Homo sapiens: one gene and its partner. The gene in region 2 interacts genetically with the main gene of each other region. Each region holds a gene or a part of one and is shown on either strand. Other genes may lie near its edges.

What was found. Genes that interact genetically often act in the same process or in processes that back each other up.
Region 1: changes in EMG1 (region 2) and WDR7 together harm fitness less than expected from each alone (positive genetic interaction), as found in Homo sapiens cells (one large-scale study listed by BioGRID).

Annotation. Positions count from the first base shown.
Region 1 is NC_000018.10:57,027,826-57,030,292, reverse strand, and holds the end of WDR7 (WD repeat-containing protein 7), read right to left. Parts: 3' UTR 501-2,467; downstream 1-500.
Region 2 is NC_000012.12:6,973,913-6,977,174, forward strand, and holds part of EMG1 (ribosomal RNA small subunit methyltransferase NEP1), read left to right. Parts: intron 1-426; coding exon 427-528; intron 529-639; coding exon 640-781; intron 782-1,177; coding exon 1,178-1,236; intron 1,237-1,316; coding exon 1,317-1,466; intron 1,467-1,783; coding exon 1,784-1,897; 3' UTR 1,898-3,233; coding exon of another isoform or gene 3,234-3,262. Other genes in the region: LPCAT3 (lysophospholipid acyltransferase 5), read right to left, coding at 3,234-3,262. UniProt on the Homo sapiens protein: S-adenosyl-L-methionine-dependent pseudouridine N(1)-methyltransferase that methylates pseudouridine at position 1248 (Psi1248) in 18S rRNA.

The DNA.
Region 1 (2,467 bases), on a different chromosome or scaffold from region 2:
GAGACAAGAAGTACATTCACTACTTACACATAACCCTCTATGAGCAGTAAGGACCTATTTTATTATTCTTGATTTTTCTGAAAACCAATTATACCCTTTACCTGAGGGATTCAAATTCGACTCCAAACTGAGCGTGAAATGCAATGAACTTGATGATCTCAGCCTAGCTCCCGAGAGGCAGCCAACCCATGCCATCCAATCTGACAAGATATGATTTGGTGCCATTACCAGTCTATTTGGGAGCATGTAGAGTAGAGATAAAGCAACAGGCATGCAACGCCTTTCCCAAACCACAGAGAGTGCCAGTGAGTTTCTGGAGGGAGAGCTTACCTCTGCACTTCTGCTCTACTGTCCTCTGGGAATAAGTTGCCTTTCCCAAGCCAGCTCTCCAGGGAAATGAATGATTAGAAGCAGCAGGGCTAGCGGAGCATACGGATTTCAACTGAGGATGTTTAAGATGAGTGAACACTGGAAAAGGTAATATTGTGAGAAAAACAGTCTTCAATACAATTGTTTTATTTAACACACATATGTACACAGGAACATTCAGCACACATAGAGTCTATTAAGTGGAATCATTAAGAAATGTCTGGAGAGGCAGACATTTTAATTCACTCGCTGTACACAGGGAGTTCAATCATCACATTTTCATACAGGTGTCACGTCATGTCATCTTTTGCTTGTAAATTACCAATGAAGCCACATATGTCTCTACATATACAAGGACAGGTCCAAATACAGTGCCAGTGAAATCAATAAAACATTAAAGGTGTACGCTGGGATGACAATGCAGAGTTTACCTCAGTGCTGAGAAATCTAAGCTGGGATGAAGTTTGGGACTGTGGCTATTAAAATAGCCAAGGAGAGATTTATGTTAACAAGAATGCAGATATTAGTTTAGTAGTTAGAGATGACCGTCTAATCATCAAACATCGTCCACCCCAGGGTTTTGCAGCCATAGCTTTCTACTGGCCTTGGTTGCCTGTGCAGACGGAATACGTGAAAGGCCTACCCACGCTTGTGGCCCAGGGCTATTGCTCCTCTGGGCCCCCTGGCTTTGTTCTCAACCTTCGTGGCGGGGGGAGCCATCCGTGTGTTTGCGGCAGGCTGCCTACCACTCTCACACCTCTTTCCTGACACACAGAACATTTTTGTTAAAGAAAATGCTAAGGTATACATTTACCTCATCATTCCAAATAGAGATGTAGTCTACAATAAATTAATTTCCATTTAAGTTCATAAAGTAAACATATGTTGGGTATAGAGAAGACTCTGGACCCACTGGAAAACAAAGTGAGCCTTTTACCTTACATTTCTCTAGCTATGCCAAACACAACAGCACGTTCACCAAACAAATAAAGTCTAAACTGTATAGGTCTTTGTTTCTTCCTTGGAAACTACATATATAATCTTTATAAATACAATGTACATGCATGTGCCTAAATTCACTTTTGAAAGAATACCCAACTCTAAAACCAAGGAACAGTATAGATTTGCCGTCAATGGAAATAACATCATATCATTATGAAAGAGATGATCTAATGGTCTTAATTTCTTAATATGCTCTTTAAAAATCTGTTTCAGTGAAATAACCAATGTTTGTTCCTAGACTTTGATCCTACTTTTTTGTATATCAGATAAACTCTGACAACCTAAACTTTTAAGACTAAATTCTCCCATTATCATTTTGGTTCCTTTGTAAACTTCACATATTTTCTCTGAATTTAACAAATAATTTTCTATTTTTGCATGTAATAAATGATTTTGCCCAACTAACCAACCAATCAACAATTAGGCAACCAAACAACCCCTCACAAGTATATACAGATCAAGGTTTGTTAGAAACAATTCATACAAAATATAATTCTATTTTTTTCATTATTATGAGCTAGAACCAGCACAATCTGACATAAGAAGAAAGTGGTCTAGTTAAAGCTTACTTAGAAGCATAATGAACACCCTCATTGCAATGTTTGCTCAAATAAATCGAGAGCCCACATATTTTTATATACACTCCTGAACATTTGTGCCATAGTTATTACTTTTCCAGAATACTTGTTTAAAAGAAATACCTTATTAGCTTTCCTTTAGTTGATCAGTAGTAGTTTGAAGGCTGAATTATAATAATTTCATAACTGACATATGCCACACATATGGGAACTACAGGATTGCAAGTTTTCCGGGGGAAAGGGGTAAGCTCTTTCTTCAACAGGATCTGTAGCAGTAGATAGGAGAGTCTTCATTTTCGGTACACGCTATGCTTCTGAACTTGGCTCTTTATCACAAAAGTCCCTTCAAGAGATTAGTTACAGTGACTGGATAATTACATTAACTAGATCATAGGGAGTGATTATTTTTATTTTAAACTACTAAATAGACTATCATTTAAGCAAGAGATGAGCACTTCAGAAGGCTAAGTGTCTGGAAAACTATTTTCTACAAGGAAAATATTTTTGTGTACATAATT
Region 2 (3,262 bases):
ACTCGATATTTTGCACAGTACCTACTTACTGCTCCTGTAATAAACACAGCATTCAGCCTTGCTAACTACTAACTCCTGCCTAGTTCCAGGATGTCTCATTGGCCTTGCCTAACAGCCACAGGTTTTTTAATTAAATCCAGTGTATTAGTAGATAATGTGAAGTCACAGGTTGTGCCCTTCCTCCTGTTTCCCTCTCAGACCATTCACTGGGGAGTGCAAATAAGGCTGCACAGTAATCCCCCGAAGGGCTTGCTGGGCTCCACCCCCAGTGTTCCTGGTTTAGTAGGTCTAGGGTGGGCCTGAGAATTTGCCTAACAAGTTTCCAGGTGCAGCTGCTGCTGGTAGTTTGGGGACCACACTTGAAGAACCACGGGGCTAGGTAACAGAAGCTTATGCTGTTCTCTCGTCATGTTCCCTGTTCTTCAGGTAGGGAAGACATATGAGCTACTCAACTGTGACAAGCACAAGTCTATATTGTTGAAGAATGGACGGGACCCTGGGGAAGCGCGGCCAGATATCACCCACCAGGTAACTCCAGGGACAGTGCTCACAACCCTTTGAGCCTCTGTATGGAAGGGTTGGCAGCTGAGTGCTGCCTCTCTTCAGCCTTAACCATGTCTCGGTTTCTGCTTTGCTCAGAGTTTGCTGATGCTGATGGATAGTCCCCTGAACCGAGCTGGCTTGCTACAGGTTTATATCCATACACAGAAGAATGTTCTGATTGAAGTGAATCCCCAGACCCGAATTCCCAGAACCTTTGACCGCTTTTGTGGCCTCATGGGTAAGAAGCCTTAGAACAAAGTTAGAATGAACTTGTCAGTAGGGAAGAAGGGAGGAAGAGGAAAAGGGAGAACTAAATGTGGATTTTTAAGCGAGAAAATGGGAGAACAACATGATTAATACCAGGACAAGGACTGTTATTATTTTTCTATGTTTGTGGAAACTCCACTCCTGTTCTTGCAGTAGCTTCCTGGCTGAGTGAAAGAGGGAGTCTGAACCCATCACTGTACAGCTAGCCATATGCTTGGCAACTGTTTGTTCCTAACATTTCAGGAGTCCAGTCTAGATATAAAGCACACAGGGAACTCATCTTATCCATGGGGTTTTCCTTGTTCGATGACTGGACAGAAGGACTGTGGTCTCCATCTAGCTCTGAACTCTTTTTTCCCCCTTCTAGTTCAACTTTTACACAAGCTCAGTGTTCGAGCAGCTGATGGCCCCCAGAAGCTTTTGAAGGTGAGGTATTGAAACCTGTTAGTTGAAGGCTGGTTCTGGGAATGTTTCTGGGGCTGACTTTTCTCTCTTTTTTACTTTAGGTAATTAAGAATCCAGTATCAGATCACTTTCCAGTTGGATGTATGAAAGTTGGCACTTCTTTTTCCATCCCGGTTGTCAGTGATGTGCGTGAGCTGGTGCCCAGCAGTGATCCTATTGTTTTTGTGGTAGGGGCCTTTGCCCATGGCAAGGTAAGGTCTGGGCTCAACCCTGAAATTCTTGGTAGAGCTGAACTTAGTATAGAATTCCCAGAGCAGTAGGCATTTTAACAATGCTTACAATGAGCTAGAAGACACATGACAGTTCCACACCCTGCCCCAGGGCACATCCTTTGAGGGCTGCTGCCATAATTGGAAGTCACAGTTAGGACCTTCTTCATCCTTTGTAGGGATTTGATATTCAACAGCACAGCTGAAATACTAGCTCAGCCATAGTTTTCCTGCCCTAAAGAAGGGCTGAAACAGCTACTGAGTGACAGAGTTGGCTGACAAAACTGTTCTTTTCTTAGGTCAGTGTGGAGTATACAGAGAAGATGGTGTCCATCAGTAACTACCCCCTTTCTGCTGCCCTCACCTGTGCAAAACTTACCACAGCCTTTGAGGAAGTATGGGGGGTCATTTGACAGTAGTAGAACCTGTTCTGAAACCAGAAACTGTTGATGTCACATCCTTTGACCCTGGTCTGAGCTGACTGCTGGAAGATGATCTTTCTGCACTGAGACTGTGGAGTTTGGGGAAGCCAAGGCTGTACATTTGCTATTTGTTTATCCTATGAATACTGTTCTTGCAAACCTGGTTGTTTTGGGGTTCCTAAAGTATCCAGTGGTGTAAAACTGTTTGTTCCCCGGGACTTCAGGGACAGATAGGAGGTTACAGAGTTTGCAGTTTGGTTCCATGCTTTGAAGGCAGGCTTTAGCTCCCAGATTCCCATGTGCTAAAGGAGAGAACCCTGATGATGGAGAAGAACTGTGAAAGAGAGCAGTCAGGAATGCTAGTGGTGAAAAACTGAACAAACAGAAGTGATTTTATCTAATACAGTTCCAAGGTAGAAAAAGTGGAGCAGGCAGGGCCTTGCACCCCTCTCCACCCCCCCATGGGGGGGGTGGTGGTAGCGGCACATACACAATCATAGTAAATTGGCAGAAGAAAAACACAATAGATTCCTGGCTAGATGGGGAGAGATAAGGCAATGTGCATGGGGGAATCAGAGGGGAGATGTGAGCCCCTCTGCTCCTCCCACAAGAGTTTCCCCTTTGGGCCGGGCACGGTGGCTCACGCCTGTAATCCCAGCACTTTGGGAGGCGGAGGCGGGTGGATCACTTGCGGTCAGGAGTTCGAGACCAGCCTGGCCAACGTGGTGAAATCCCGTTTCTACTGAAAATACAAAAATTAGCTGGGCATGGTGGCGTGCCTGTATTCCCAGCTACTTGGGAGGCTGAGGCAGGAAAATCACTTGAACCCAGGAGGTGGAGGTTGCGGTGAGCTGAGATCCCGCCACTGCATTCCAGCGTGGGTGACAAAGCAAGACGCCTTCTCCAAAAAAAAGTTTCCCCTTTGGCCCCAAATGAAGACTTGGCTGGCAGCAGAGGCACAGCTGGAAGCATCGATCTTCCACCTCCCTGGCTTTTCCATTCTCTGCTCTGGGGCAAAGGAGTGCTGTGAAAAGGGAGACGAGTAGTTTCTGCACCAGTCCCGCACAGGCCACCTGCAAGACAAGAGGAGTTTGGAAGGCTGGTTAGTTACTCCTGTAATTCCTGGTCTATAGCCCTTCCAGATGTTTCCTAGCATGCCTCAATAAGTCACAGTAGTCATTGCCCATACTGTGTTCCTTAGTAGCCAGGCTAATCCTTGGAATTCACCCCAGATTTCTAATACTATTGTTTTTTTCCAGTCTGTTGCTCTATTCTGTAACCTGGTGGTAGTTTTAGTTTAGCTGTATTAACTTACCAGGGAAATGGATTATTCCATCTTCTTTAACTTCTCTTTCC